Linked DNA regions of Homo sapiens: regions 1 and 2 are each linked to region 3. The links come from fine-mapping of genetic effects on gene expression. A gene starts in region 3. Each other region holds a variant in brackets. All regions are shown on one strand. Distances are between the middles of the regions.

What was found.
Region 1: its variant is fine-mapped to the expression of TMEM240 in cerebral cortex (GTEx, PIP above 0.99).
Region 2: its variant is fine-mapped to the expression of TMEM240 in whole blood (INTERVAL, PIP 0.98).

What each region holds. Positions count from the first base shown.
Region 1 is chr1:1,458,048-1,468,451 of GRCh38, reverse strand. ATAD3C (ATPase family AAA domain containing 3C) reads right to left here. Exons shown (of 12, transcript NM_001039211.3): 9 at 9,221-9,291; 10 at 7,535-7,702; 11 at 5,744-5,852; 12 at 1-68. Among named protein-coding and RNA genes, the nearest start is that of ATAD3B, 8.5 kb to the left of the region's middle. RefSeq lists enhancers at 5,807-5,866, 5,887-5,966, 6,052-6,826. The variant G/A (reference allele first, on the strand shown) is at 5,055.
Region 2 is chr1:1,560,673-1,571,076 of GRCh38, reverse strand. SSU72 (SSU72 homolog, RNA polymerase II CTD phosphatase) reads left to right here. Exons shown (of 5, transcript NM_014188.3): 2 at 6,161-6,304. Among named protein-coding and RNA genes, the nearest start is that of SSU72, 9.0 kb to the left of the region's middle. RefSeq lists an enhancer at 91-592. The variant T/C (reference allele first, on the strand shown) is at 5,516.
Region 3 is chr1:1,536,536-1,546,939 of GRCh38, reverse strand. TMEM240 (transmembrane protein 240) reads left to right here and starts at 6,316. Exons shown (of 4, transcript NM_001114748.2): 1 at 6,316-6,650; 2 at 7,150-7,256. The coding sequence starts at 6,594. It overlaps SSU72 (SSU72 homolog, RNA polymerase II CTD phosphatase), which reads left to right. Exons shown (of 5, transcript NM_014188.3): 3 at 1,938-2,077; 4 at 2,953-3,071; 5 at 4,773-5,267. The coding sequence ends at 4,874. RefSeq lists a silencer at 7,437-7,731.

The DNA.
Region 1 (10,404 bases), 78 kb after region 3:
AAGTCTTGCACGCAGGCGTCCATCATGGCCTCGGTCAGGACCCCGTCCTTGGAGGCATACGCCGTGGCCTAGTGGGGAGAGAGGGAGCTGAGGGAGGCCGCCATGGGAACCCCCCACCCCAAATGCACGCCAGGGCCCTGAGGTGGGGAGGGACCAAACCAGGGGCTCCAGGATGGCCTGAGCGTGAAACACAGGCTACCCGCACCTCGGCAGAGCCCAGCACGTGTGTGGACACCGGGGGCAGCCCCTGCAGTGCCCACAGCCCTGCCTGCGTCCTCAGCACCAATGTTGCTCAATGACTTTCTAATAGAAAGCCCAAGGCGGAGCCTCACTGACGGCCGACCCAGGGCAGCTTCCCAGAGGCAGGTGGGAACTGCAGACCCTCTGCGTGTCTCAGCCGTGGTCAGGCAGTGCCCCCGGGTCATAGTGCACCTCAGACCCTCAGACCCTGACCCTCACAGGCCTCCAGGGCAGAGGCAGCCACTGCCCACCTTGAGGCACGTGGCTGGTGGCACCAAGGCCACCTCTGCCCCCACCTCCCTGTCCTCCTGGGCACAGGGCTTGGCATCTAGCATGTGAAGGCTGGAGCTGCTGGGGCTGTGGCCCTTGGTGTGGCTTCAGGCAGCCTCAGGTCCAGCCCTTCTGCCATGGACAGGTCACTCTCCATCCCAATGCCAGCAAAGGGCATGGAGTCCCCAAGGGGAGGCACCCATGGGTCAGGGTGAGGGTGTGGGGACCCCCACTGGGCGCCATGCTCAAGAGCGCACCAGGACGCCTGGAGGAAGCACAGGGCAGGGGACCCTTCCCGGACAGCTGAGCGGGTCCCTAGCCCCATCCCAGCTATGCCTCCCAGAGGCAGGATTCATCTCACGGGGTGCAGGGGCAGCAGCACACCATCCTCCCACAACACCGTCACCACGATAGAACCTGCCATGGGGATGACCACGTGGTGCCCGTCCCCTCTGCCAGCGCCCATCCCTCACCAAGAGCCACTGTGTGGGGAGACACTGACCGGAGCCGGACCACCACTGTGGGTCGGGGGCCCGGGAGCGCAGGAGACACTGACCGGAGCCGGACCGCCACTGTGGCTCAGGGGCCCAGGACTGCTCAACATCATTTTTGGTCTTGAGCCCACCCAAGAGAGGGCAAACAGGTGCAGGGACCCTCAGGGTCCACCCGAGTGGCTGCACCTCACCCAGGGCCCAGCAGAGGAAAGGGGGTGAGCAGATGCTCACGGAGCCACCCCTCCAGGAAGCACGGGACCTGGCAGGAGCCCACCAGAAGTGACAGCTAAATGTCACGTGGCCTCCTGGGTGGGATTCTGGGGCAAAACCTGGTCGCGGGTGGGTCCAACAGTGACACATGATGTTCACCACGTGGCAAGGTCCCAGGCCCAGGAAGTCTCTGTGCTACTCTTGCAACTTTTCTGGGAACCTAAAATCTTCAAACTATAAAAGTTGAAAGACAAGACCTGGACCTGATGTCTTCACATGTGAATTCACAAAACATTAAGAAGAATCAGTACCACTCCTCAAACTCTTGGACAAATTGAAGAACATTTCCTCACTCATCCTAAGAGGCCAGCATTACCCTCATATCAAAGCCAAAGACACCACAAGAAAAATGACATGCCAATATCCCTGATGAGCATCGTTGGAAAAGTCGTCAAGAAAATGCCAGCAAAACGAATTCAGGAGTATAATAAAAGGATTCCACACCCTGACCAAGCAGGATTTATTCCTGGAATGCAAGGACAGTTCAACATATGAAAATCAATCAATGTTCCACATACAAAATGTTCAACATACAAAAATCAGTCAATATTAGCAGAGTGGAGGAAGGAAACCACATGACCCTCTCAACTGTTGCAGGAAAAACATTTGGCCAAATACAATTTTTTTTTTTTTTTTTTTTTTGAGATGACATCTCCTTCTGTCACCCAGGCATCTCGGCTCACTGCAACCTCCACCTCCCGGGTTCACGCCATTCTCTTGCCTCAGCCACCTGAGTAGCTGGGACTACAGGCACCCGCCACCACACCCAGCTAATTTTTTATATTTTTTAGTAGAGACAGGGTTTCACCATGTTAGCCAGGCCAGGATGGTCTCAGTCTCCTGACCTCATGACCCACCCGCCTCAGCCTCCCAATATGCTGGGATTACAGGCGTGAGCCACCGCGCCCAGCCATTTTTTTTTTTTTTTTTTTTTTGAGACAGAAGTTTGCTCTTCTTGCCCAGGCTGGGGTGCAATGGCAGGATCTCGGCTCACCGCAACCTCTGCTTGCCGCATTCATGCGATTCTCCTGCCTCAGCTTCCCAAGTAGCTGGGATTATGGGTATGCACCACCACGCCCAACTAATTTTGTATTTTTAGTAGAGTCGGGGTTTCTCCATGTTGGTCAGGCTGGCCTCGAACTGCCGACCTCAGGTGATCCACCCACCTCACACTTTTATGATAAAAACACTCACCAAACCAAGAATTGAAGGACACGCCCTAAACACAATGAAGACCATATATCACAAGCCCACAGGTGACATACTCAGTGGTGAAAAACTGGCAGCTTTTCCTCTGAGTAAGGAACCAGGCAAGAATGCTTTACTGCTTCTATTCCACATACCACTGGAAGTTGTGGCCAGGGCCATTAGACAAGAAAAAGAAAAGTCATCCAAACTGAAAAGGGAGAGGTAAAATCACCTGTTCTCAGATGATATAATCTTATATGTAGAAAATCCTAGAATCCATATTGGAAAAAACAACCCTGTGACATCAGCAAAGTTACAGGATACAAAATCAACAGCAAAAACAGCTGCAATTCTACATACTAACAATGAATAATCTTTTTTTTTTTTTTTTTTTTTTTTTAAAGACAGTCTTGCTCTGTCGCCCAGGCTGGAGTGCAGTGGCACGATCTCGGCTCACTGCAAGCTCCGCCTCCAGGATTCACCCCATTCTCCTGCCTCAGCCTCCCGAGTAGCTGGGACTACAGGCACCTGCCGCCACGCCCGGCTAATTTTTTGTATTTTTAGCAGAGATGGGGTTTCACCATGTTAGCCAGGATGGTCTCAATCTCCTGACCTTGTGATCCACCCACCTCAGCCTCCCAAAGTGCTGGGATTAAAGGCATGAGCCACCGCGCCTGGCCCACAATGAATAATCTGAAAGGGAAATTATGAAACCATTTCCATTTACAATAGCATCCGAAAGAATAAAATACTTTGAAATTCACTTGACCGAGAAGGTGAAAGACTTGCACAGTGAAAACTGACCGGGCTCCGTGGCCCACACCTGAATGAATCCCAGCACTTTGGGAGGCTGAGGCGGGCAGATCACCTCATGTCAGGAGACCGAGACCAGCCTGGCCAACATGGTGAAACCCCGTCTCTACTAAAAATACAAAAATTAGCCGGGCATGTTGGCGCGTGCCTGTAATCCCAGCTACTCAGGAGGCTGAGTCAGGAGAATCACTTTAACCCGGGAGGCGGAGGTTGCAGTGAGTTAAGATCGCAACACTGCACTCCAGCCTGGGCGACAGAGCGAGACTCAGTCTCAAAAAGACAAAAAGAGAAAACCACACAATATTGCTGAGAGACATCAAAGCAACATAGAGACTAAATGCAATCCCTGTGAAAACCTCAATTATGTTTTACAAAAATAGGAAAACCATTCCTAAAATTCATATGGAATCTCAAGGGATCCTGAATAGCCCAGACTGGAGTTCAATGGCACCATCTCAGCTCACTGGAACCTCCGCCTCCAGGGTTCAAGTGATTCTCATGCCTCAGCCTCCTGAGTAGCTGGGATTACAGTCACACACCACCACGCCCAGCTAAGTTTCGTATTTTTAGTAGAGACGGGGTTTCACCATGTTGGCCAGGCTGGTCTTGAACTCCTGACCTCAGGCAATCCACCCACCTCAGCTTCCCAAAGTGCTGGGATTACAGGCGTGAGCCACCGTGCCCGGCACAAAAAGAAAAAAACTCTTGAAGGACAAAGTTGGTGCTGGGCGTGTTGGCTCACCACCACCGCTGTGAGCAGTGCAGGATGAGTGTCCTTATAAGGGACACCAGAGAGAGCTGAGTTGCTCTCTCTGCCACATGAGGACCCAGCAAAGAACACTCCACAGGGAGGGACCGAGCTGGCACCCTGACCTTGGGCCTGTAGCCTTCAGAGCTGTGGGCACACACGCCCCAGTGGTTATGGCAGGCCCAGCAGTCGACCACACTCCTGTTCTTTTTTTTTTTTTTTTTGAGACAGTCTCACTCTGTTGCTCAGGCTGAAGTACAGTGGCACGATCTCGGCTCACCACAACCTCCACCTCCTGGGTTCAAGCGATTCTCCTGCCTCAGCCTCCCGAGTAGCTGAGAATACAGGCATGCACCACCACCATGCCCGACCAATTTTTGTATTTTTAGTAGAGGTGGAGTTCGACATGTTGGCCAGGCTGGTCTCGAACTCCTGGCCTCAAGTGATTCTCTCTCCTTGGCCTCCCAGCATGCTGGGATTACAGGCATAAGCCATGACCAAATTATTCTTATTTTTTAAGACAGGGTCTCACTCTGTAACCCAGGCTGGAGTGCAGTGGCACAATCACAGCTCACTGCAGCCTCCGCCTCCTGGACTCAAGTGATCCTCCCACCTCAGCCTCCCAAGCAGCTGGCATCACAGGTATGCACCACTAGGTCTAGCTAATTTTTTTTATTTTTTGTAGAGATGGGTTCTTGACTTGCTTTCCAGGCTGGTCCTGAACTCCTGGTTTCAAATAATCTGGCTGACTTGACCTCCCCAAATGCTGGGAATACAAGCATCAGCCACCACCATGCCCGGCCTCTGCTTTCTTAGTTGTGGAAACAGACCTGGTCCCAAGTGGGGATGGCCTGGAACAGAGACCTCAGCTGACCCAGAAGGACGGGGTTTGAGATCTGGGGTTCTTTGTCACAGCGGCATAACCCAGCCTGTACTGACTAATACAGCTCCCTACATACCCCGGCTCCTACGTTCAAATCAAGGTAGTTGGCTACTTCATTAAGCTGTCACACATAATGTGCTGCTAGATC[G/A]AGTGACCAGATTGTCACACAGACTCTGTGGACCCCAGAGGCAGCGATGCCTGTGCATGGCCAGGGTGCCTTCTGCCCCACAGACCTGGTTTTGCTTTTCCAGCAACCCCCAAAGACCAAAGCTTTCTGGATGGCCGTGCCCACACTCCTGTGAGTCCCAGCTCCTTGGCCCTGGGGCAGCCATGGAGCTGCAGGAGGGGTGCCCCTGAGAAACAACTGGCTGTGGGACAATCAGAGGCCACAACTCCCACCCATGTGTCTGGGCCCGTCAAGCAGGACCAAGCCAATGGACTTGGTCCAAGAAACACAACGTCCCTCCACCCCCACCACCAAACTCACAAGGGGCCTGTCCTGATGACCATTCACACTGGGGGGTGCCTGTCTGCCAAGGTGAGCATCAGAAGCCTCCCGCCCCACCTGGCAGAGCCCGGGCTACTAGGAGGCCGCACTGGCTTCCTGACCTGTGACCGTCAGCCACTGACATGGCCCCACCCTTCTTGCTGGAGCAGGTGCACGCTGCTGCGTGGAGTGGCCCAACTGGGGCAGGGGCCCCGTGTCACATCTGTGCACTGAAAACCCCTCAACAGAAGCTCCCACGTGACACCGGTGCTGGGACAGGCCTGGCGCAACCAAGCATCTGCACAGCAGCTGGGCTTCCATCTGGGTGGGTGCACCCGAGCCTGACTCACCTGCCAGGACACGGCCAGCTGTGCGATCTTCCGGCATGACATGCCCTCTGTCAGCCGAGCGATCTCTAAGCACTTCCTCCCGTAGTCAAACTGGGCCAGCTTCAGACGCCTGGGGAAGGAGTTCCCAAGTGGGCCGGCCAAGGCAGCAGCTCCCACACCACGAGGTGGAGGCCGGAAGACAGGCAGCCAGGCGGACACCCATGCCAGATGCCCCCTTGAGAGGGACTCTCTACCTGTGACAGCCAAGTTCCGCCCCCTTCCTGACGCAAGCCAGGCCTGGGCTGAGCAGGAAGGGGGCGGCTGTGGGGCCTGGAGATGGCCGCACCCCTTCCTAACACCAGCCCTGTCCACTCAGCACCCACAGGGCGCATGGCCGTTAAACTGGCAGTGGCAGAGCCCTGAGTTCTAGCAAAAAAGCTTCTGCCTGGAGGCCACAGAAGCCAGGTCATGGTGCCAGAGCTACGAGCAGCCATGGGTGTCGGGGAGCCCAGGGAAGGGGAGGGCATAGGGAAACTGAGACCCGGAAAGCTGGTCTAGCATGGAGCAGGCGGCAGTGGAGGGGTCGGCAGGGGAGAACCAGGCTCTCTTTGGAACAGAGCAGCTTTTGTCGTCACTGGCGACAGCAGGGATTTGGGTCAGGTGCACAGAAGGACTCAGAAACCGGGGCCCTGGGGACGCCAAGAAGTAGAGCAGCCTCTGCTCATCTGGAGTGTTCCCGAGGCAGCCAGTGTGAGGCGCCAGGGCCCCTCATCACCTGGAGGGCTCTGCCCACCGTGCCTGCTGCACCCACCGCCAGCAACAGGGAGCCTGACAGCCTCAAGGCACATGTGCAGCAGGAAGCAAGAGCCGCGCCCCACACCACGAGGCTCCAGGGCCGGGTGTGGCAGCTGCAGGGAGGCCAGGCCAGAAGCCAGCAGTGGACCATGAGGAGCCTCTCCCTCTAGTCCCGACATGGGGGTCTCATGAGGAGCCTCTCCCTCCAATCCCTACATGGGGGTCTCATGAGGAGCCTCTCCCTCCAGTCCCTACATGGGGGTCTCATGAGGAGCCTCTCCCTCCAGTCCCTACATGGGGGTCTCATGAGGAGACTCTCCTTCGAATTCCGACATGGGGGTCTCAGAGCAACACTCCACGTCACCTCCCCTCACTGCCAGGGTCTGGGGGTGGCCAGGTACAGGATTTCCTCACAGCTCTCCGCGTAGTGAAGAGGAACGTAAAAGAGGCCGGGCACAGTGGCTCACATCTGTAATCCCTGCACTTTGGGAGGCTGAAGCGGGCGGATCACCTGAGGTCAGGGGTTCAAGACCAGCCTGGCCAACATGGTGAAACCGCATCTCCACAAAAAATACGAAAAGTAGCCAGACGTGGTCGTGGGCACCTATAATGCCAGCTACTCAGGAGGCTGATGCAGGAGAATCGCGTGAATCCAGGAGGCAGGGGTTGCAGTCAGCTGAGATCGTGCCACTGCACTCCAGCCTGGGGGACAAGAGCGAGACTTCGCCTCAAAAAAAAAAATGTTAAAGGTTTGTAAGTGATAGTGGACTGTGCCTCCAAACCAGAAGACACGCCACCAGGCTGTTCTCAGGTGGGGATGAGGAAAGGGTGGCAGGACCTCCCTGGATGCGGCCTCTGGGACCCTTGGGGCCCACAGGGCTCCTGCACGAAACCGCAGGGCAGGGAGGTGGTGCCCATCCTGGAGACAGGGCCTGCTGGGTGTGTCCGGAGAACAGGAGCAGGGGTGGACCCTGAGCGAGGGCCCCTGGACGGGGGCTGGTGGGGCGGGACACTTACCGCTTTCCTTCTGTGGCCGGCTTAAGAACATACTCGTTAAGATACATTCTCACCAGGCGCGCCCGCTCCTCCTGCCCTGGCAGGTCGAAGTGGACCATCACGTCGATGCAGGCATTGATGGCCCAGTCGAACTGCTCGGGGTGGCAGCTGGCCAGGATCAGCATGAATCTGCGGGGCGGGGATGGGGAAGGAAACGCTGGGGCTGCCGGCCGAGCTGTCCCCAGGGGAACAGGTGCTCCTCAGCCCCCTCAGGAAGACTTTCTGGGAGAATCTAAAGTGGCAGCTTGTGAGCACAGGAAACATGGGGAGAACGCAGCCACAGCCATGGTCACCCGCCTGCCTGCCCCACCACGCCCAGCTGTCCCCCTGCCCGGCTTCCTGGGCCTCTGTTCTTGCCCCGTGTGGTACTTCCCCGCTGACCGTCGCCCAGCCTGATAGGCAGTGCCGGGAACACCACTCCCTCCTGCTACCTGAGCCCCGCTGTGCTGGGAGCAGGGATGCGGGACCCAGAGTCCATGTCAAGATTGTGGCCACGCTGGCCAGACGCAGTGGCTCACGCCTATAATCCCAGCACTTTGGGAGGCCGAGGCGGGTGGGTCACCTGAGGTCTGGAGTTCAACACCAGCTGACTAACATGGTGAAACCCCATCTCTACTAAAAAAGAAAAAATACAAAAAATCAGCCGGGTGTGGTGGCGCACGCCTGTCATCCCAGCCACTTGGGAGGCTGAGGTAGGAGAATCGCTTGAACCCAGGAGGTGGAGGTTGCAGTGAGCCAAGATCACGCCATTGCACCTCAGCCTGGGCAGAAAAAGCAAAAACTCCATCTCAAAAAAAAAAAAAAAAAAATACTGCCACGCGAGCCAGGAGCAGGACCTCGGGGGCCCGGGTTCACTGGAGGCTCAGCAGGGCCCCAGCCTTGCCTCTCTGGGAAGGACCCGAGTCAGGGCTCCAGGGAGCGTCTACCGGCAGCAGCTGACCCAGGAGCCCAACGTGCCTGAGGAGTCAGCCACGGCCGACCAGCAGGACTTGATCCTCCATGTGACACGTGACTGGGGCTGGAGGGACCCAGGAGACCAAGAAAACTCAAAATTAGGGGACTTGGGAGGGACTAGGGAGACTGGCCATGGGGCGGTCACCCTATGGGGGACATCTGGGCGGCAGCCCACAGAGGCCACACAAAGTCGGGTGGGCCCCAAGCCTGGAGGGTGCACCCTTGGCCAGCATCCGGGCGGGGGACCAAGGTCCCAGGTTCCGCCCCGACACACAGGACCTGCTGGTGTCCAACTTCCCGTGGGAGCAAACTTGTCTCCATCTCCCACCCCAGGGCACACACACCCTCCAAGGGAGACCCAGCAGAGCCTCACACGATGAGACCACCTCCCTTGCAGGCACAGGACCGCAGAAACCTAGGGGCAGAGGGACCTGCAAGCTGGGGCGGCGGTGCACAGGGCCGTGAGGACAGGACTGACCCCAGCTCTGCCCGGGAGGCCCCCGCATGTTCCTCAGTGACACCCCGTGCTGTCCTGAGCTGGGCCGTTCCCAGGGGACATCCAAGGTGGGCACGTTGAGGCCACGGCAGCTGCCCAGCACTGTGAGCCAGGGCCCCTCAGGTCCCTCGGTGGGAACCAAGGGTGACGGCTGCACAGCCCTGCCCGGGGGCCCAGGACCCGAGGGGCTCCCTCACTTGTTGCTGTGCTGGCCCGTGCGGTACAGGAAGGCGTTCAGTGTGGCCCTGAGGTCCTCGCTTATCTTCTCCTGCAGAGAGAAGGTTCCAGCCTTAGGCACCAGGAGCAAAGCCTTGTAAACAGCCACAGCAGAAAGTCCCACAGGCCTCCCTCCTGCAGGGAGCAGGGACATGGCGACACTTTCACGGATCTAGACTCAAAAGCCTGACCAGGGCCAGGGGCGGTGACTCACGAATGTAACCTGGATTTTGGGAGGCTGAGGCAGGCAGATCACACGAGGTTGGGAGTTTGAGACCATCCTGGCCAACATGGTGAGACCCCGTCTCTACTAAAAATACAAAAATTAGCCAGGCGTGGTGGCACACCTGTGGTCCCAGCTACGTGGGAGGCTGAGGCACGAGAATCACTTAAACCTGGGAGGCAGAGGTTGCAGCGAGCTGAAATGGCACCGCTGCACTCCAGCATGGGCGACAGAGTGAGACTGTCTCAAAAAAAAAAAACAAACCCTGACTGGGCGTGGGGGCTCATGACTGTAATCCCAGAACTTCAGAAGGTCAAGGCAAGAGCATCTCTTTAGCTCAGAAGTTCGAGCCCAGCCTGGGCAACAAGGGGAAACTCCATCTCTACTAACATTACAAAAAAGTTAGCTGGGGCCTGGCGCGGTGGCTCACGCCTGTAATCCTAGCACTTTGGGAGGCCGAGGTAGGCAGATCACCTGAGGTCGGGAGTTCGGGACTAGCCTGACCGGCATGGAGAAACCCAGTCTCTAGTAAAAAAAAAAAGACAAAATGAGCTGGGTGTGGTGGTACATGACTGTAATCCCAGCTACTTGGGAGGCCGAGGCAGGGGAACTGCTTGAACCCAGGGGGCGGAGGTTGCGGTGAGCCAAGATCGCGCCATTGCACTCCAGCCTGGGCGACAGAGACCCTGTCTTAAAATAATAACTGTATGGCTGGGGGTGGTGGATCACGCATGTAATCCCAGCATTTTGGGAGGCAGCAGCGGGCAGATTATTTGAGGTCAGGAGTTCTCAACCAGCCTGACCAACATGGTGAAACCCCATCTCTACTAAAAATACAAAAAACTTATCTGGATGTGGTGGCACACACCTGTAATCCCAGCTACTCAGGGGGCTGAGGCAGGAGACCAGCTTGAACCCAGGAGGCGGAGGTTGCAGCGAGCC
Region 2 (10,404 bases), 24 kb before region 3:
AGTCAGGGTTTCACCGTGTTGGCCAGATGGCCTCGATCTCCTGACCTCGTGATCCGCCCGCCTCGGCCTCCCAAAGTGCTGGGATTACAGGCGTGAGCCACCGCGCCCGGCCAAATTTTTTGTATTTTTAGTAGAGATGGGGTTTGACTGTGTTGGCCAGGGTGGTCTCGATCTCCTGACCTCGTGATCTGCCCGCCTTGGCCTCCCAAAGTGCTGGGATTACAGGCGTGAGCCACCACGCCCAGCCTGCTTGTTGCAGAAATTCTTACTGTAGAAAATGAAAGTGGTCTCTCAGAGGTACCATTTTGGTGTCCGTCTGTCTCCATGTGTTCACGCATGCATCGGGGATAAGCTCTTGTTCTGTTGTCTGCTCCATAGTTAGTATTCACATCATTAGTTTCCTTTTTTTGCCACGAGATGGCTTATTTTCATTATTCATACAAATAATTTTCTATAATACCCCAGTCAAACGGGAGAATTTGGCAGTCCGATTTTGGGGTGGGGGGGGTCCCTGCAGAGACTCACAGACTGGTGGCATTGGCGCTGAGTGCCCAGGTTCACAGCACAGCTTGTGGCTTGTGTCCATCTTGCATGTGGCTCTTCCTCCATGTCATGACTGGGGTCTCGGGGGTAACGGGCAGGAAATCCTTCAGACTCTTAGGAAATTTCACTCCACTTCTCCTGGCCTCTGGTCGGCAGGGTGTTCTTCCATGTCTCGGTTTTCTAGCTTGGCCTTATTGAAGTTGGAATTTATGTCTGTTGTCATTTTCCCTTTTTTTTTTGTTTTTTTTTTCAAGCCAGAGTAAGGCTGGAGTGCAGTGGCGTGATCATAGCTCACCACTTCACCCTTGAATATCTGGGCTAAAACGATCCTCCTGCCTCAGCGCCCCAAAGCATTTGGATTACAGGTGTGAGGCACCGCACCCAGAGCATTTTTGCTTTTGAAAATTACCTGTTTATGTCCTTTGTCTATTGATTTGGGTTTATTTAGAGAGTTTTAATACTCAGAAACTCTGTGTGATAGTGCTTTTCTGTTACACTGGGAAAGCTTGTGAAAGTCAGATTTAGAGAGTCTTTTAGGCGTTAAAAATGATGTGAAAAGCGTAGGAAATGCTTATGGTAAGTGAAAAAAGCAGGAAAATTGTATGCAGTTGGGTAGGGCTACATAAAACTGCACAGGAAAGCTGAAATAAAATTGTCAGAAGGAATTGTAGTTAACTGAGCAGGCACAGTAGCTAGCTGATCAGTGAACCTCGCCCCTTTTAAAAATTTTGGGCCTGGCAAGGTGGCTCTTCGGCCTATAGTCCAGCACTTTGGGAGGCTGAGGGAGGAGGATTGCTTGAGCCCAGGAGTTTGAGCCCTGGGCAACACAGTGAGACCCGCTATCATTACAAAACATTTTAAAACTTAGCCACATGTGGTTGCACATGCCTGTCATTCTGGCTGCTTGGGAGACGGGGCAGCAAGATCACTTGAGCCCAAGAGGTTGAGGCTGTGGTGAGCTATGACTGTGAGCTGTGACTGCGCCACTGAACTCCTGGCTGGACGACAAACCAAGTCTCTGTCTCTAAAAACAGACACAGTAACAATTTCACCCTATTGAAAATCAGCGTGGACTCTATTTTCCTGATAAATCCAAGTGATAGTAAGTGTCGACATGTTAGCGTTCTCTGGGGTGATCATCTTTGGTGTTAGAGACTAAATTGTTTCAAATACCAGAGTCCTGGGAGTCCTCATGTTTCAGGGCAGCGCCAGAAGACTCCGCCGTACGTTTCCACAGAGCCTCCTGCGCTTGGTGCTCCAAGGATTAAAGTGTCCCCTTGGAACCAGTTAGGTTTTTTGTTTGTTTGTTTTGTGGCTTTTTGTTTTTGTTTTTTTGTTTTTTTCTTTTATTTTATTTTTTGAGACGGAGTCTCATTCTGTCGCCCAGGCTGGAGTGCAGTGGCAAGATCTCGGCTCACTGCAGCCTCTGCCTCCCGAGTTCAAGCGATTCTCCTGCCTCAGCCTCCTGCGTAGCTGGGACTACAGACATGCACCACCATGTCCAGCTAATTTTTTTGTATTTTTAGTAGAGACGGGGTTTCACCATGTTGGCCAGGCTGGTCTCAACCTCCTGACCTCAGGTGATCTGCCTGCCTTGGCTTCCCAAAGTGCTGGGATTACAGGCGTGAGCCACCGTGCCTGGCCTTATTTATTTATTTATTTTTACAGACAGGGTCTTACTGTGTTGCCCAGGCTGGTATTGAACTCCTGGCCTCCCAAGTAGCTGGGATTACAGGCATGAGCCACCACGCCTGGCTAGTTTTGTATTTTTAGTAGAGACGGGGTTTCTCCATGTTGGTCAGGCTAGTCTCAAACTCCCGACCTCAAGTGATCCGTCCTCCTCCGCCTCCCAAAGTGTTGGGATTACAGGCGTGAGCCACCATGCCCCGCCTGATGGCTTCTTTATGATAGTTTTTTGGAGTTTTTTTGAGACAGAGTCTCACTTTGTCACCCAGGCGGGAGTGCAGTGGCACCATCACGGGGCCCACTGCGACCTCCACCTCCCGGGTTCAAGCGATTCTCCAGCCTCAGCCTCCGGAGTAACTGGGATTACAGGCGCGCACCACCACGCCTGGCTTTTTTTATTTTTTTATTTTTTTTTTAAAGTAGAGACGGGGTTTTGTCATGTTGGCCAGGCTGGTCTCAAACTCCTGAGCTGAAGTGATCCACCTGCTTGGTCTCCCAAAGTGCTGGGATTACAAGCCCTCTGATAGATTTTTGGTACTTGTAAAGACAGTTGTTTGGCATACCAGACAAATACTTGTCTGGAAGATTAGTTTACAAAGGCGTTGGCCCTTCAGGCGAAGCCTGTTGGTGTCAGGAGTGTTTTCCAAGCTGTCCTTGCTTTTATGTAAGAAACGCTGTTGAGTCGCAAGCTGGCTGCCCTGTCGGTTGCATCAGTTTGGGAGAAATACTGCTTCTGTTGCTAAATAGCCTTTTTGCCATTCGTGAACCTTTTGTTGGGGGAAAAACAAACTGCATTTTGTTTTTAAATAGGCTAACTTAAAGGAACGTCCAGCAGGTGGTGAGTTCTTGTTGGTGTTGGGAGGCAGGCTGTCTCCTTTGGCTGCTGTGATCACGCTGATCCTGGGCTTCTTTGTGCGATTTTTTTTTTTTTTTTTGAAACAGAGTATCGCTCTGTTTCCCAGGCTGGAGTGCAATGGCGCGATCTCGGCTCACTGCAACCTCCGCTTCCGGGGTTCACGCAATTCTCCTGCCTCAGCCTCCCGAATAGCTGGGATTACAGGCGTGTGCCACCATGACTAATTTTTGTATTTTTAGTAGAGATAGGGTTTCACCATGTTGGCCAGGCTGTTGTCGAACTCCTGACCTCAAGTGAGCCACCGCGTCCGGCCCTTGTTTGTGCTTTGACGGAACATATTTTATTGTATGTTGTCTGAATTGGTAAGGAAGTCATTTTAGGCTTGTTGTTTCTCACGTGTGCTCCCTGTGGTATGCCTTGTGTCTGGGCCTCCGTCACCCTCTCAGTCACAACCAACAGTTGACTTTATTGCTTTAACCTCATGTTTCCGTCAGGATCTGTGGTTATGACTGAATGTCAGGAATTTTAATTTTAGCATTTTCACGTTTATTTCACAGTCCGGGTGCCGTGAACACGGGTTTGTAGTCATGAATCGCTGCTATTGTGCCACATTTCTGGCCGTGTGTGGTAGATGTTTGGAGAGCCGGGTTGTGTAGCTCGGAATATCTAGGGATGTAAGGACTGACGCAGCTGTCATCAGCCTCAGGGGACTCAGGTGTTTCACGTACACTAGATGAGCACATCTTCTCTGTGTGTGTGGGTGACGTGTGTGGTGGCGCAGCAGGGTGCCCTTGGGCTCTTTTGCTTCCTCTACTCATCTTCGGAGGTGCGCGTGGAGCCGCATGGCCTGTCCTGCCCCATGGATGGATTATTCTACTTGTCTGTTCTTTTGTGGCTGTGGAAGGCCGGCAGTGGGCATCCTGCAGGCAGCCATGTTGCAGAGGCACGTGTATGTCCGTAGGGCGGGTTTCTAGAAGCCAGTGTCTGTGAGAAAGGCACAGGTAGTTTTCACTTGCTGGGTGTTGCCCCATTATCCGCATAGAGACTGGTTACACTCCAGCAGCCCCCTCTGCCTGAGTTTTTCCTCTCTTGTGACACTGTTACTCATTCAACATTCAGTAATTTTTTTTTTTTTTTGAGACAGGGTCTCGCTCTTGTCGCCCAGGCTGGAGTGCAGTGGCGCGATCTCAGCTCACTGCAACCTCTGCCTCCCGGATTCAAGTCATTCTCCTGCCTCAGCCTCCCGAGTAGCTGGGACTATAAAAGCGCCCGCCGCCTCGCCCGCCTAATTTTTTGTATTTTTAGTAGAGATGGGGTTTCACCATGTTAGCCAGGCTGGTCTTGATCTCCTGACCTCATGATCTGCCCACCTCGGCCTCCCAAATTGCTGGAACTACAGGCGTGAGCCACCGCACCCGGCCTTACTTTTCTTTTTTTAAAATAATATGGAACTCCTCACGTGTCTGTGTGTCATTCTTGCTCAAGAGCGAAGCAGCAGCACTTTTCTGAACAAGAATGACAGGCCTGTAAGAGGAGTTTAGTGTTAATGGAAGTGTATGTGCGCCCTGCGCCCTGAGCCAGGCAGATTCCTTCAGATGCAAACCTTTTGTGATTTATAAATAAAGCTAGGTTGAGAAGTCTATATTTTTTAGGTAATTATAAGTATCAGTTGTGACTTTACAAGAACACATGTTCTATACCAAAGTAACTTTTTTTGTTGTTTTTTTGGGACAGAGTCTCGCTCTTTTGCCCAGGCTGGAGTGCAGTGGTGAGATCTCCAATGTCTGCAACTTGTGCCTGCTGGGTTCAAGCGATTCTCATGCTTCAGCCTCCCAAGTAGCTGGGATTACAGGCACGCACCACCATGCCCAGCTAATTTTTTTTTTTTTTTTAGTAGAAACGGAGCTGGGGTTTCGCCTCCTGGCCAGGCTAGTCTGAAACTCCCAGCCTCAGGTGATCCATTTGTCTCGGCCTCCCAAAGTGCCTGGATTGAAGGTGTGAGCCACCGCACTCGGTGCCAAAGTAACTTTTTTACATGTAACTTGTTGTGACAAACTTAAGTGTGCTTGTCAGCGATGACAGAAGAATTTTCTGGTCTTACCACACTCCATCAGTGTTTGGAGACGACCTCTCTTTCTCCTTGCGTGAACTAGAGCTCATTGGTGGCACATGACACACGTTTCCTGTTCAGCTCTTTTCTCCAGTTGATTAGGAAAAGTATTTGGTCAGTTTCCTCACCTGTGACTAGGAAGTCCAAGGAACAAGCACCGTCGGACCCATCGCGGCATCTGTTCTCTGCCTGCAGCAACCCTGAGCCTGTGGGACTCCTTTGGGTGTTGGGTCTCGGTTCCCATGGAGCCACATCGTGGGGGTGTTGGGAAACTGGGGGAGACAGAGTTTCCTGTGGTGGAGCGGGCAGTTGGACCTTTG[T/C]GAGTCCCTTAGGAATCCTGTGAACTTGGATCCTCCAAAGCCAGGACGTTGGTCGATGGCCAAAATGTTCTGATGAAATCTTCCCCAAGTCCACATCAGTCAGTCCTTTCAGTTTAAAGTAAAGCCTTAAACAAGCTATGATGTTCAGATGTGGCTTTGTGATGGTCAGTTCTGGTTTGATTGCTTTTGTGTAACTTGCTACAGCCTGTCGCCCAGGCTGGAGTGCAGTGGTGCTATCTCTGCTCACTGCAAGCTCCGCCTCCCGGGTTCACGCCATTCTCCTGCCTCAGCCTCCCGAGTAGCTGGGACTACAGGTGCCCGCCACCGCGCCCGGCTAATTTTTTGTATTTTTAGTAGAGACGGGTTTTCACCGTGTTAGCCAGGATGGTCTTGATCTCCTGCCTTCATGATCCGCCTGCCTTCATGATCCGCCTGCCTTCATGATCCGCCTGCCTTGGCCTCCCAAAGTGCTGGGATTACAGGCGCGAGCCACCATGCCCGGCCTAGATTAAAAATTTGAAGACATATTCTCTACTATGAGCCAATGAAATTACTCATTTTGTTTCTATCCCATTTGCTGTCCCTTGCTTTTGGAATTTTGTGTCTTAGTGTGACTGTGATTCTTTCTCTCCTTTTGTCTTTCAGCAAACGGGGATTCAGCGTCCGATCCTTTGGAACAGGGACTCACGTGAAGCTTCCAGGACCAGCTCCCGACAAGCCCAATGTTTATGATTTCAAAACCACATATGACCAGATGTACAATGATCTTCTTAGGAAAGACAAAGAACTGTATCCCAGCGGGTTGCCCTTTAAAAACCCCCCGTGTGGTCCTCCCTGGAAGGTGTTACGTGTGGCTCGGGCACAGGAGGCGTGTCACCCTGTGCAGTGCACACACTGGCTCCTCTGTCTTTGCGAGAGCTTGGTTTCTATTCCTGGTGCACGTCGGATCGTCCACGGGTTAGTTCCAGTGCCACCCATGGCAGTAGGCGTGGTGAGGCGCACAGACACGGTGTGGGGTTCACCCTGACGTGGTTCAGCAGAGGGTCGTGACATAGCGTAGACCAGGGATGCTTAGGTGAGGAGGTGGAACCCACAAAATCCCATTGCTTTTCACACTGCAGGGCTGCCCCGTTATTTCCTTTGCAGGTTGGTGTGCGTGCGTGTGTGCGTGCGTGCCTGATACACATGGAGCCGGGCTGCTTCACACATCTGGTGAGGTCGTTAGAAGGTCAGATAAAGAAGAGGGCGGAGCTTGCTAACCAAGCTGTTAGAAGAAATAATGGGAGAGAACATTCCTTCATTTCAGGAGGACACAGAGCAGGCTAGGTCTGCCGCGAAGACTCCTATAGAGAGAAGAGTATTCTTAAACTAGATTCTGATGGACGCAACACCAGTTGCATAATGGTTATGACAATCAGTGCCCGGGTTTTTGACCAGGCATTTCATGGTCACCCCCACGCTAATGGAAAGTTTCTGGATCTTATTTTGTTATAGTGAGTGATTTGTAGTTTTCAGAACGGAGGCCAGGCCAAACGTATTCCAAATGAAAAGAGAATAGGTGTCAAATGCTAAACCTTTTATCTTCGTGTTGGCACTGTTGCCATCCCCGCCCTCTCCCGACATCCCCGCCCTTGACCAGCATCTCTGGCCTTGCCCAGCATTGTCTATGTATTGGCACTCTTGCCATCCCCGCCCTTTCCCAGCAGAGTCTCACTGTGTCACCCCGGCTGGAGTGCAGTGGCGAGATCTTGGCTCACTGCAGACTCACTGCAACATCCACCTCCCGGGTTCCAGTGATTCTCCTGCTTCAGCCTCCTGGGTAGCTGGGATTACAGGCACGCGCCACCACACCTGGCTAATTTTTGTATTTTTAGTAGTCACAGGGTTTCACCATGTTGGCCAGGCTGGTCTTAAACTCCTGACTTCAGGTGATCCACCCTCCTCGTCCTCCCAAAGTGCTGGGATTACAGGCGTGAGCCACCATGCTCAGCCCTACTCTTGTATTTTTTTTTTTTTTTTTTTTTGAGATGGAGTCAGAGTCTCACCCTGTTGCCCAAGGTGGAGTGTAGCGGCTTGATCTCAGCTCACTGCAACCTCCCCCTCCCAAGTTCAAGCGATTCTCTGCCTCAGCCTCCCGAATAGCTGGGATTACAGGCATCCGCTGTCATGCCTGGCTAATTTTTGTATTTTTAGTAGAGACGGGGGTTTCACCATCTTGACCAAACTGGTCTTGAACTCTTGACCTCGTGATCCAGCTGCCTCGGCCTCTCAGAGTGTTGGGATTACAGGCGTGAGCCACCATGCCTGGCCTCTTGGAATATTTAATAAGCTAAAAAATTCTTATACACAGGTAGATTAATTAGGTAGCCAGGAGTGGCCCCTGAAAGTATGTCTGGCAAAACCTAGAACTGCATCCTAGCCATCACTGTACCTTCTGCCCTCCCTGCTGTCTCCTCTGCCAGTTACAGTTAAAAGGTTGTGGGTGAGGACGCTGGGCAGAGTCCCAGGCGTCTGCTGTCAGCTCCCCAGCCCGGCCTGCCTGCCGAGCCATCTGGGCGTCCCACGGTGGAGAGTGTGGTGCTTGTGACGCGGTGGTGCTGGGAGCCATCCTGGTGGCAGATGTGGGCTCTCACTGCAAGTCAGTGTAAGTCCCCAGGGACTGTCAGCAGCACGTCCTGCTGCCCCTCTCTCTGCAGAAGCCCTGGTAACCTGCGTTTGGAAAAATCTCTAAGGATTTCTGAGGAGCTGTCAGGCCATGTCCTTGTCCACCCTGTGTGGGGCACGGCTTCGACATGGCTCTGCTCCCGTCGTGGGCTGAGAAGGAGCAGGTGGGGCTGTGCCTTGGAAAGGAGGCCCTCCCGACATGCCTTTGTGCGAGGTCCCTGTCCATGCTGTCTCCATCCCGGAGCCTTACGGCGATGGGTGGCCACAGAGCCTATTCCAAGAGTCTGGTTTAGGGCTGGGTCTTCCCATCTTCACCTCTGAGTCTTAGGCGATGCGTGACCACGCAGCCCCTTCCAGGAGTCTGGTTTAGGGCTGGGTCTTCCCATCTTCACCTCTGAGTCTTAGGCGGTGCATGACCACGCAGCCCCTTCCCGGAGTCTGGTTTAGGGCTGCGTGCTCAAGAGTCTGGTTTGGGGCTGGGTCTTCCCATCGCCCTGGAGGAGGCTTTTGTCTCATCTCATGATTCACATTAAACTCTGTGCCATGAAGCTTAGCCTGACATCCTGTTTTTGACAATTACTCTTCAGTTAGCACTGTTTATTTTTAAGTTCTTGTATATTCAGTAAGAGAAAGAAAAGCAGAGAGTGACGCACATCCTCACACTCCCTTGATTGGTGTAAGCTCAGCCCCTTCATGTCAGCCCACTGTGACCTCCTGGGTTCCAGACCTGGGAAGTACTTGCCACGTTCTGCAAGGACTGAGTCCAGCTTCAGCAGTCTCATCCGGAAGGACTTGGTATAGGCAGAGGATGAGCCTGTCTCTGGTCATTCTAAAAGAAGGAGCTGAGCCCAGTGTCCCAGAATTCGGAAGCTCCTCCTTTACAGAGGGACTGTAGGGGTTGGTGATCTCCCAGGAAGCATCGGCCCAGAAGAACCCCGCGTGCGTGTGTGTGCTCTTGGTGTGTGGTGGGGGGAAGGAGTGGCAGCAGGGGTGGCGCTGGGACACTGTCAGCCACGGGCTCTGCTTTGGGGACCTCGTGTGGGAAAGGCATTGCCTGTGGTGGCCCCTCAGGAGGCTCTAGGAGGAGCGTGCCTTCATTACCTTATTTCACTCGGGGGGCGTCTTTGCCCCCTAGGTGGGGGCAGAAGGTGCAGAATGGGAAGCCTGCCACTTAGCTAAAGCTCTTGCACATGATGCCCTTGGCCTGGAGAGGAGTGAAGTCCCCAGGCAGTTCCCTGTGGACACTGGCACGATGCCGGGTGGGGCCTCAGGGGTGTTGAGATGTGCAGGTCGGGAGGACCCCGATAACGTTTCCTGGTTAGTGATGGGTGCAGGGGGGCCGCGGGAAGTGACTGTTACAAGTGAGAGCCCGAAAGCAAATCTGCCCCACAGCAGCCGGTGCGTTGGCAGAAGTCATCGCCGTAAACTGCAGTGGAAGCAAGACGGGGTTCAAGATGCGGCCCAAAGATAAGACGCAGCACTTGGTCGAGTGTTCACAGCGTCAAGACAAAGGACGGGCCGGCGCGGTGACTCAGGCCTGTAATCCCAGCACTTTGGGAGGCCGAGGTGGGTGGATCATGAGGTCAGAAGTTAGAGACCAGCCTGGCCAACATAGTGAAACCCCATTTCTACTAAAAATACAAAAATTAGCCGGGCATGGTGGTGCACGCCTGTAGTCCCAGCTACTTGGGAGGCTGAGGCAGGAGAGTTGCTTGAACCTGGGAGGCAGAGCCTGCAGTGAGCCGAGATCGCGCTACGGCACTCCAGCCTGGGTGACAGAGTGAGACTCTGTCTCAAAAAAATAAAAAAGGAAGGACAGTGTGACTTGGGAGGAAAATGCTGCTTGTTCAGAGGCAGGGCCGGGGTCGAGGGGGACCCCACCACTGCCATCTGCCTACTTGCCATGTGGCCAGGGCTTAGGTTTCTCTGTGCATGCCCACCTCGCAGAATTTCTGATAATTAAATAAATTAGGACATGCACACACTGAGCCCGAGACAGTGTTTTAAAGCCTTCAATAAATTTTGGCCAGTTGTCCTATTAGTATTGAAATACTTAATTTATTATTATTATTTTTTTAGATATGGGTCTTGCTGTGTTATCCAGGTTTGTCTCGAACTCCTGGCCTCAAGTGATCCTCACATGTTGGCCTTCCAGAGTACTTGGATTAGAGGCGTGAGCCACTATTCTCAGCTTTCATTTCTTAAATACAAAATCTCCTTGACTT
Region 3 (10,404 bases):
CTGCCTCAGCCTCCCGAGTAGCTGGGATTACAGGTGTGAGCCACCGCGCCCGGCCTTTTTTTTTTTTTTTTTTTTTTTTGTTGTTGTTGTTGTTTTCCAGAAGGAGTTTTACTCTGTCGCCCAGGCCGAAGTGCCGTGGTGTGATCTCGGCTCACTGCAACCTCCGCCGCCCGGGTTGAAGCAACTCTCGTGCCTCAGCCTCCTGAGTAGCTGTAGCTGAGATTACAGGTGTGTGCCGCCCCACCTGGCTAACTTTTGTATTTTTAGTAGAGACGGGGTTTCACCATCTTGGCCAGGCTGGTCTCAAACACCTGACCTCAGGTGATCCACCCGCCTCGGCCTCTCGATGTGCTGGGATGACAGGTGTGAGTCGCCACGCCCGGCCTCCTAGAATGCTGGGATGACAGGCGTGAGCCGCCGCACCCGGCCTCGAGCTCTTCTTTCCGCAGACTTTGATTCTCAGCGGCTGAAGGACTAAGTTCCCCAGAGATGGACCCGGGTGTCATAGCTGCTTCCAGGGGCCTCGGGGACACAGGCGGGACTCCAATGTGCAGGAGGAGACACACGTCAGGGGTGGGTGTGTGACTTCCACGCTGCTGACAGTGACCCAAGGATGCAGCTCAGGGTCAGATGCCGTTAGATCAACCACTTCAATGTATTATAAAACTATTATAAAAACTATTTTTGCTACCCAGGAAGGTAGCTGAGTTCACTTAGAATTCCTGTCAGCTAGGCTGTTTATCTGAAAGTGGTTACTTGTCCCTGACCATCTGGAATGGCTCAAATGAGCTCCTGCAGACCACAGAGCTCATCTTTGGGAACCCAGTCTCTCTTTTTGGGGAAGTGAGCCCCTTCCTTGGGAACCCCTGAGGCCAGGCATGGCCACTGTGGATGGTGGGAGGATGCCCCACCCTGAGGACCCCAGAGGCTCCTGTGGCCCCTTCCTGGGACTGCTGGGGCCGGTGTGTGTCAGCGTTCACCCCAAGGCCCCCTTTCAGCTGGGCTGGACGCCAAGTGCCTTCAGGCCTCATCCTGCCCTCCACCATCCCATAGTCAGTGAGGCTGTGGCATCTCCCTCCTCGACTGTCTTGCCCTCTTGGTTTTTGTATCAGCGTTTTCCAGGCTGATTGCTGCTGAACCTTCTGTTTTTTTTTCTTTTTCTTTTTGAGACAGTCTTGCTCTGTTGACCAGGCTGGAGTGCAGTGGCATGATCTTGGCTCACTGCAACCTCAGCCTCCCGATTAGCTGGGATTGCAGGCATGTGCCACTATGTCCGTCTAATTTTTGTATTTTTAGTAGAGACGGGGTTTTACCGTGTTAGCCAGGATGGTCTCGGTCTCCTGACCTCGTGATCCGCCCACCTCGGCCTCCGAAAGTGCTGGGATTACAGGCATAAGCCACTGCGCCCGGCCTGGAGCTTCCTTTCTTTGGGTTTTCCGATGTTCTTGACTCTGTTGTAGCTGAGCTAGACTGGGGACTGGGTTTCCGGGTTTGCTTTGTCTCTGCTGAAGGGCTGAGGTTTCAGAGCCAGCATGCACTGCACAGGGAGCAGAGGGAGGAAGAAGGATCCGACTGCGGAGACACAGTGACTGAGGCCAAGGGCAGCTTGGGCCGGGCCAGCAGTGAGGGGAGAGGTCTGGGTAGAAGGTGTCATGCTGGGCGGGGGCGGGGGGTGTCCTGCGGGCCTTGGGTCTTTTTGCCGAGTTGGGGGACAGCGAGGAGCAAGCACCTGCCATCGCCCACTTTGTTTTCTGTGGGACCTCCTAGGACAGTGAGGCCCCTGCCTCACCAGGGCATGGCCCACTCCGCTGTCCAGGCCTTCGTCCCGGCTGCCTCTGCTGTGGGGCAGGGAAGGGGCTGGGTGTCCAGGACACAGGCGCTTCCAGGCTTCATACACAGATGCCTTTTCTCTGACGTTCCTTAACTCCCATGTGTAGCTATACACAGAATGGGATTTTACATATGCTGGACAGAAATAAGAGAATCAAGCCCCGGCCAGAAAGATTCCAGAACTGCAAAGACCTGTTTGATCTGATCCTCACTTGCGAAGAGAGAGTGTATGACCAGGTGGTGGAAGGTGAGGAGGCGGCTGCGTGCTGGGCTGGGCTCCAGCAGCTCTCACAGGGTCTGGGGATGCCTGCAGGGCCCCACCATGACCAGTACAGCCCGTCTAGAGTGGCGGGGGCCGGGGAGCAGACCTGAGTGTGAAGCACCCTGGAAGGCAGGCAGGGCCGCTGGTCGCTGAACCACCCATGTGCTGGCTGCAGCCTCATGGGCTTCAAGGGGCCTCTTTTCTCCTTGGTGTTTTTTTGTTTTGTTTTTTGAGACAGAGTCGTGCTCTGTCGCCAGGCTGGAGTGCAGTGGTACAATCTAGGCTCACTGCAACCTCTGCCTCCCGGGTTCAAGTGATTCTCCTGCCTCAGCCTCCCGAGTAGCTGGGACTACAGGCGTGTGCCACCACACCCAGCTGATTTTTGTATTTTTAGTAGAGACGGGGTTTCACCATGTTGGCCAGGCTGGTCTTGAACTCCTGTCCTCAAGTGATCCGCCCGCCTCAGCCTCCCAAAGTGCTGGGATCACAGGCGAGAGCCACCGCGCCAGGCCCATTTTTCAAGCGGATGGACCCTGTGTGGAGCTGGCGGTGGAGCAGGGAGGGCTGGTCTTTAGTGACGGGGAAGGGTCGCAATGCCAGTCACGGTTCACCCCAGGACTGGCTGGTGGGTGGGGAGTCCCAGACCAGCTTGTGCTGAGTTGGAGATTTGCTCAGGTTTCCTCGAACCATCAGCCGCCTTCGGTTTGAGGCTCATTCATTGTGCTCCCCAAACTGCAGAGTCCAGAAACCACTGGGGCTGGGCTGGGCCTGCAGCCGGCAGAGCTGGGGACTCAGCCACATTGACTGCCTGTTCCCTGGTTTTGGAGCCTCTGACGTCTGTGTCACCTTGTCCCAATCAGATCTGAATTCCAGAGAACAGGAGACCTGCCAGCCTGTGCACGTGGTCAATGTGGACATCCAGGACAACCACGAGGAGGCCACCCTGGGGGCGTTTCTCATCTGTGAGCTCTGCCAGTGTGTAAGTACCCGGCTGGGCGCCGCGCTGGGCAGAGGTTGTGACAGAGGGGAGTGACCGAGGCCGTGACAGAGGGGAGTGGCCGAGGCCGTGACAGAGGGGGTGGCCGAGGCCGTGACAGAGGGGAGTGGCCGAGGCCGTGACAGGGGAGTGGCCGAGGCCGTGACAGTGGGGAGTGGCCGAGGCCGTGACAGTGGGGAGTGGCCGAGGCCGTGACAGAGGGGAGTGGCCGAGGCCGTGACAGTGGGGAGTGGCCGAGGCCGTGACAGAGGGGAGTGGCCGAGACCTGAGGCCGGCCCTGCTGCTTGGGGCAAGGTCTGCTCAGCTCGCCTGTGTCGGGGGCGCCTGCTGGTAGTTCAGTGAGTCACTCCACAGCTTTGGCACAGGAGGCCCCCCTGCAATGCCCTTTGCTCAGCTGAGAGACGCTGCACAGGGACCTCCCCAACACAGGCTTAGTCCCTCTCCCAGGACACGGCTCCAGGGAACGCCTGGTACCTTGTCTCTTCCCCGTGGCGGACACAGCCCCACCTCAGTGAGCAGAGCATGCAGCTCTCCGGGATGCGGTGCAGTCGGAGGTGTGCCCCACGTGAGCCTGGAGGCTGCCAAGGGCTCTGTGTCCGCCGTCCACCCCTGGACTTGGCCTTCTGCACACCTGCCTTCCCCAGTGGGCCCTGCATGTCTCCCTTGCACAGAGGGGCCGGGGCACCCCAAGGCTTCTGTAGCCACCCTGCTGCGGCGTGGAGGTGCTGGGCTGTGACGAAAGGACCTGCCTGAGGAGAGCCCCACGCACCGTCCCGCCTCTGCCTCTGCCTCTGCCTCTGTGATTTGATGAATGTCTGTGAAAGACAGAAAAACAGAACAGCTTCACCAAGAAAGAAGATGGTGTGTTTGGAAAGCCCGGGAGCCAGGCGGGCGGGCGCTGGGAGAAGCTGCTGTGTGGCCGCAGAGGCTCCTGCGCTCCGCCTGGCCCACCCAGCATGGCTTCTGGTCCCCACGTGCCTCACGGTCCAGTGTGGCTGCTGAAGCGCCAGGGACGGTCTTCATGATCGCCTGGCAGGAGAAAAGGTCATAAGAAAATGTCGTCCCAGAAGTTATTGCACGATTTCTGCTTGGGTCACGTTGGCCAGAGCTGAGTCACAGACAGGCCGCTCCTTGCTTAGAGGCACTGGGTGCTGGCCAAGGCTGGGGACCAGGGGACAGTGGAGATGGCGAGTAACGAGCTGCCGGTGCCAGGGCAGGTGTGCCTAGGAGCCGGGCCTGCTCACTCTGGGGCAGCGGCCCTCTGCCAGGGGCTCTGGTGGATGGAGGCCAGGATGCTCCGATGACCAGGCTGCCCCCGCTCGCTTGTTGGTGGTGTGGAAGCGCTGGCGGTGAGGGTTGGTCGGCCCCGCTGTGCATGTGTGGGTCTGAGCCCTGGCCGCCAGGTCTCCGTGCTGGGCCCCTCTCAGAATCCAGCTCCAGGCTCCTCCCAGCTCCTCCCAGCTTCAGGTCCTGTGAGGGTCGGTGGGGAGGTGGGGGCTGCCCGGGACGCTCTCCCCCTGCAGCCTCCGGCCGTCCTTGTGAGGCAGCAGCGGTGGGGTGAGGGCCTGCCTGCTGCGCTGGTTTCTGCTGGCTCAGGCCTGGCGTTTCCCTGGCGATCCAGGTGTTAGGGGGAGCAGACAGGCAGGAGTGGGCAAGGCCCTCACCACGGTCCTGTCCTTGCAGATCCAGCACACGGAAGACATGGAGAACGAGATCGACGAGCTGCTGCAGGAGTTCGAGGAGAAGAGTGGCCGCACCTTTCTGCACACCGTCTGCTTCTACTGAGCCCAGCGCCCGCATGGAGCCGCCTCTGGAGCTTCCTGTTGTTCATACTTTTTCCTTCCTGACATTTGTTTTTACTTACAGGTGTTCTGCTGGTGACGGTAGCATTACCCAAATAAACTGTGCATATGAAATGGGAGAGGAGATGCCAAAACGCCAGATGAAAGCAATCAAGTTTCTTCTTTTCCACTTTTACTTATGAGCAGGATATTGATTACAAAGTTTTTCTTCTTTAACCAAAAAGGAAAGACAACGGTTTGTGTGCACTTCCCGACATACCTGTGTCTTCGTGTGCCTGCCTTCCCTCCCTCCTCCCCACCGGGCCGGACTGTACAGAGCCCTGCTGCGGCGTGTTAGGAATGACCTGGAATTGTCAATAAACAGATGCTGCTGTCATTGTGCCTGGTCCTGAATTCCTGGCCCGACCCTCGCCCCTGAGGAGGTGGCAGAGGCCTAGCCCTGCCGCCCTCAGTGACCTCCGACCACTGCTTGGGAGGAGTAGCTCAGACCTGGTGGTGCTGACAGGGTCTGGGCCTACCCGTGCCTGTGCTGCCTGAAGCGGAAGCCGCCTGCTCCTGCCACAACTGCTGCCTGTGGTGGAGCGGCGTCCCCTCTCCATGTGGAACCCCCCCGGGCGGGGATCCCCCAAGGCCAGCTACGGGGGAGGCTGAGCCGGGAGGATCGCCTGAGCCCAGGAGTGGAGGCTGCAGTGAGCCTGGATGGCGCCACGACCCAGGCTGGGTCCCAGGCATAGCTTCCCGCTGACTTCCTGCTGAGGCCGGGGGTCGGCTCCCGGGCCTGAGACATGGTCACCGGTCGTGGATGAGAGTTTGGCCTCAGGACCCCGAGCCAGGGACAGCCACAGCGGAGTGGTGGCCACTGGGCCTCTGAATGGCCGGCGTCCCGACCCATGGGCCTGGGCTGACCCCCTCGTCCCCGCCCTAAGGGAAGCCTGTGCGGGGCGGCCCTGCCCTCGGCTCCTGTGCCACATCCCTCCGTTGAGGATTCCAGGGGTCATCCCGTCCCTGACCTGTGGCCCCCACGGCCGTGGGGCTGTCGCGACCTTGCGGACCCCACCCTGGAGGCACGTGCGTGCCGAGCGGACTGGGGCAGTCCCGCACCCGGCGACCTGGGAGTCCAGGACGTAGGGCGGAGCAGTGGGGCGGGAAGGGCCTCGGCGCCCCTCCAGGACCGGAGGACTGGCGTCCAGGGTCACCGGACAGGCCACCGGGGCTGGGTCTGACCAGACTGGGGCGGGACGCGAAGCCGAGGCTCCCGGGGAGGGGTCCCGGCCGGCGTCCGGGGGATGGCGGTCTCCTCCCGGCGCTGGCACGGGGCGGCCTGCGGTCTGCGCGGTCCCTCCCGAGAGGCGGAGGAAGGCGGCGGGGAGGGAGGGGGGAGGAGGGAGGAGGAGGCAGGGAGGGGGCCGGAGCCGAGCGGAGCCGAGTCGAGCCGAGCCGAGCGCATCGCAGGGAGGACCCGAGGGCGGAGCGGAGCGCGGCGGGCCGGGCCGAGAGACCCCAGAAAGGCCCCGCGTCCCTCCCCGGCGCCCCCCCCCCCGCGCCTCCTCCCCCCGGCCGGTGCCGGGGTTGCAGCGAGCGGCGGCGGACGATCCAGGGAAGCGCTGACCTCTGCGGAGGCGGCGGGGGCTCAGCATCGGGCCGGGGCCGGGGGGGCGCCGGGGCCGGGGGGCGGCGCTCCGGCCCGGCCCGGCCCCGCCCGATGTCCATGAGCGCGAACACCATGATCTTCATGATTCTGGGGGCGTCGGTCGTGATGGTGAGCGGAGGGGCTTCCCGCGCGCGCCCCCTGCTCCCCGCCCGCGCGCGCCGCCTGGCCCACCTCCCGCGCCTTGTTTACCGCCCGTGCGGCCTGCGCTCCCCTCCCCGGCCTGCGCTCCCCTCCCCGGCCTGCGCTCCCCTCCCCGGCCTGCGCTCCCCCACCCCGGCCTCCGCTCCCCTCCCCAACCTGCGATCCCCACACTCCCTACGCTCCTCTCTCCGGCCTACGCTCCCCCCACCCCGGCCTGCGCTTCCCCCTCCCCGGCCCGCGGTCCCCTCCCGGGCCTGCGCTCCCCCCACCCCGGCCTGCGCTCCCCTCCCCAGCCTGCGATCCCCATACCCGCTGCGCTCCCCCTACCAAGGCCTACGCTCCCCTCACCCCGGCCTGCGCTCTCGCTCCCCGCTTGCGCTGCCCCGACCCCGGCCTGCGCTCCCCACCCCCAGCCCCGCTTCGTCCCGCCCGCTCCTTGGCGCTGACCGGTCATGAGCTCTTCCAGGCCATCGCGTGCTTGATGGACATGAACGCGCTGCTGGACCGATTCCACAACTACATCCTCCCGCACCTGCGGGGCGAGGACCGCGTCTGCCACTGCAACTGTGGCCGGTGAGTCCACAACCGGCGCCGGCTCGACACGCGTGAGCGCACATGTGTGGCGGGGCCCACTCGGGGCGCGGGGGAACCAGCCCCACGCAGGCCGCGAGCCGCCTTCCACCCTTGAGGGCTGCCAGGTGCGCAGGGGGAGGAGCTGTCTCAAGGTGGGCGGGGGTCTCCTGGGGGCGCATGGCTTTAGGACGCCGTTCCTAGAGGCCTCCAGGGTGATGGCGGAATGGGTCACGGGGCCTCCTGGTCCAGCCTGGAGGCCGGAAAGCCGCAGCCCAGTGTGATGTCCACAGTGGAGACCCAAGCCAGCCTCATCAGGGCTGGGGCAGGAAGCGCCTGCTGGCACAGGGCTGGGCCCTGCACTGAGTCCCTGGGCAGGGGAATGCAGGTCAAGGCGGGAAGGGCCTGCCTTGAGGGGCACTGGGCACCACCCCCGGGCTGGAGAGGAGCTGAGGGATGGGCTGGGGGGGCAGCGGGGAGGTGGAGCTTCCTCAAGGTCATTCAGATTGAGGGGAGCGCCCAGACCCCCCGCACCCACCGTGTGACCCCCTCTGTGCACGTGTAGCGATGGGATCCTCTTGGCCATGCATGTTTGTACGTCCATGTACGAAATAAACATCTTCTCATGAGACGCGCATGTGTGTGGCGTCTGTGCATATACATGTGCGTACACACAGCCCCCGCGCACGCACGCATGCACTTCCACCCCTCAGGACACCCTCACGCAGTGGCCGCTGTTAACCCTGCTGAACAGATGAGGAAGTGGACGGAGGATTTAGAGGACAGGCTTTTCCAAGGTCACACAGCTAGTGAAGGACAAAGGGGGCACCAGCCCAGAACCCGTGTTCGTCATCTCTGCTGCCTCCTGCTCCGGGGGTCTCTGTGCATACGTGTGGGTGTGGGGCATGTGTGTTCAGGACAGCTGCATGTGTTGCTAAGCGTGTGACATGCCTATGGGTGCAGCAGGCGTGTCGATGAAGAACACGGGTGTTAGAGAAGGCAGAGATCGGGGTGTCTGTGACCCTCACGTGTGCTGGGCACAGGGTAGGGGGTAAGAGCTTGTGGGGTGGCCACATGCTACCAGAGAGCCCCGTGTCCCTGGCTGGCAGGTCCGACTGCTGAGCAAAGGCCTGAGGTCGGCTCCACTGCCTCCCGGAGGCTGGGCCCAGACCCGAGCTCCAGAGCATCAGAAAGGTGCGGCCTCCACGCACGTGGGCTGGGGCCGTGTGCATCCGCCTGTGGCAGCACACTGAGGGCTCCGCGGGGCAGGCAGAGGCGCCTTAGAGTATTTGCACAGGGCATGTAGGGCGGCTCATGCCGTGTCCAGAGCACGCGTGGACTCGGGTGGGTGCACGCTGAAGGCAGCCGTGTGTGGGAAGCAGAGCCACAGCCTGCTGTAGACGGTATTGCTGCGTGTGTGTCCATGTATCTATGCTCTGTTCACATCTCTACATACAGGATATGTACGTTCAGCGTACAGAGTGCCCTTGTATATTGACAACATATATGTGTATGCAAAGTACATGTATGTCACAATATACAGTGCCGTGTGCTCAGGGACATGTCAAGATGTCTCCGTGTAGCTGCAGCCAGTGTGTGTGCAGACAGCAGTCTTGCACATGCGGTATCTGCGTATCCACCATGCCCGTGCACTGCCATGAGAGGCTCCCTGTGTGTACACGCTGGTGTTCAGAACGAGTGTGTGTACATGTGTAGGCCTCATACGTGCCTATACGTAGACGTTGACGTGGAGAACGTGTATGGAAATCAATGCTCCAAAGTCTGTTGGCAGGCAGCGTCCAAACTAGACATCCGTCCATGCACGTGACGTGGCGCCCCGTGGAGAGGGTGGCTGCGTTTTGCAAAGCCAAGCGAACATGCACTCGCGTGACACACCGTGCACAGGGCGGGGGTGTGGCGCTCCCGGGGCCCATGTCCACAGTATCACGCCATGTCCCGTGCATGTGGCTGGTGTGTATACGTGATGTACACTGGGCCTCAGGTGGACACACCTGGTGTGTGTGGTGCAGGCAGGACACACGTATGTACATGTCACAGACATACGTGTGCAGATAGCATATCTCTGCCCAGGCCTATCTCCTGCTTTCACTTGGGAGACCTGAGCCCTCCAGGAAGGAGGGCCAGGTGCAGGGAGAGGAGCTACAGGTACCCAGGCCAGCCATGGTGGGGGACACAGGCTGTGACCTCTGACCCCCAAAGTTACTGAGCCCCTGGGGTGGGTGAGGACTCTCTAAGGGGTCAGGAACAGCTTCCTCCCCTGAGGGCCTCTGGCAGCTGCACATTCTGGGCAGTGGTCAGCAGCTGCCCATTGGTGACGATGGACGATGGCTGTGGACAGGCTCGTCACCAGGTGATCGGTGGCCACCAGGAATCAGCCACGGTCATGGTCACTCCTCACCGAGAGCCCTGCCACTGAAAGCGGCCACTTTCCGGATATGCTGAGGGGACTGACCTCCGGGAACCCCAGAAGAGCAGGAGGGCTTCAAGGGGAGCGTGGGGCAGGGGACACCTCCTCCCTGTTCCTGGGCTCGGGCCCCAGGACCCCCCAGATCTCACTGAGGGAAGGCACCTGTGTGGTCCCCGCTGGGCACAGGGATGGCCTGGAGAGGGCTGCAAGACCCTGGGTTGGACGGACAGGCTGGGCTTTCAGTGTGGGAAGTACTTCTGGTTGGGGTGTGGAGGGTGGGGTGGTCTCTGGGTCTCGGCTGAAAACCAGGCTGAGGCGCTGCTACGTCACCGAGGGGAAGGTGGGGGAGAAGCAGGTCTGGGGAGAGAGGAGCTATTTTTAGGCACAAGTTTAAGGTGTCTGCGGATCCCACGTGGAGACACAGGCAGCTGGAGCTCGGCGGAGATGTGGGAGGCAGCCAGGAGTGTGGACCGCAAGGCGCGTGGGGCCCGCGGGCTCCACTCCCAGGCCCTCCTGTTGGACTAGGGATCCCAGAGTTGACTGTCTGGGATGCCAGTCCGATCGGCAGAGTCAAGGCCCGGAGACCTTCCTGGGACAGGGTGAGCTGCTGGGGCGAGCTCCTTGGGGAGCTTGTGTTGCCCCAGCAGCAAGAGGCCAGAGGCTGTTGTGGCCTGAGCCTGGGCAGTTCCCCCAAGAGCCCGGGGAGGGGAGGCCGAGGGACAT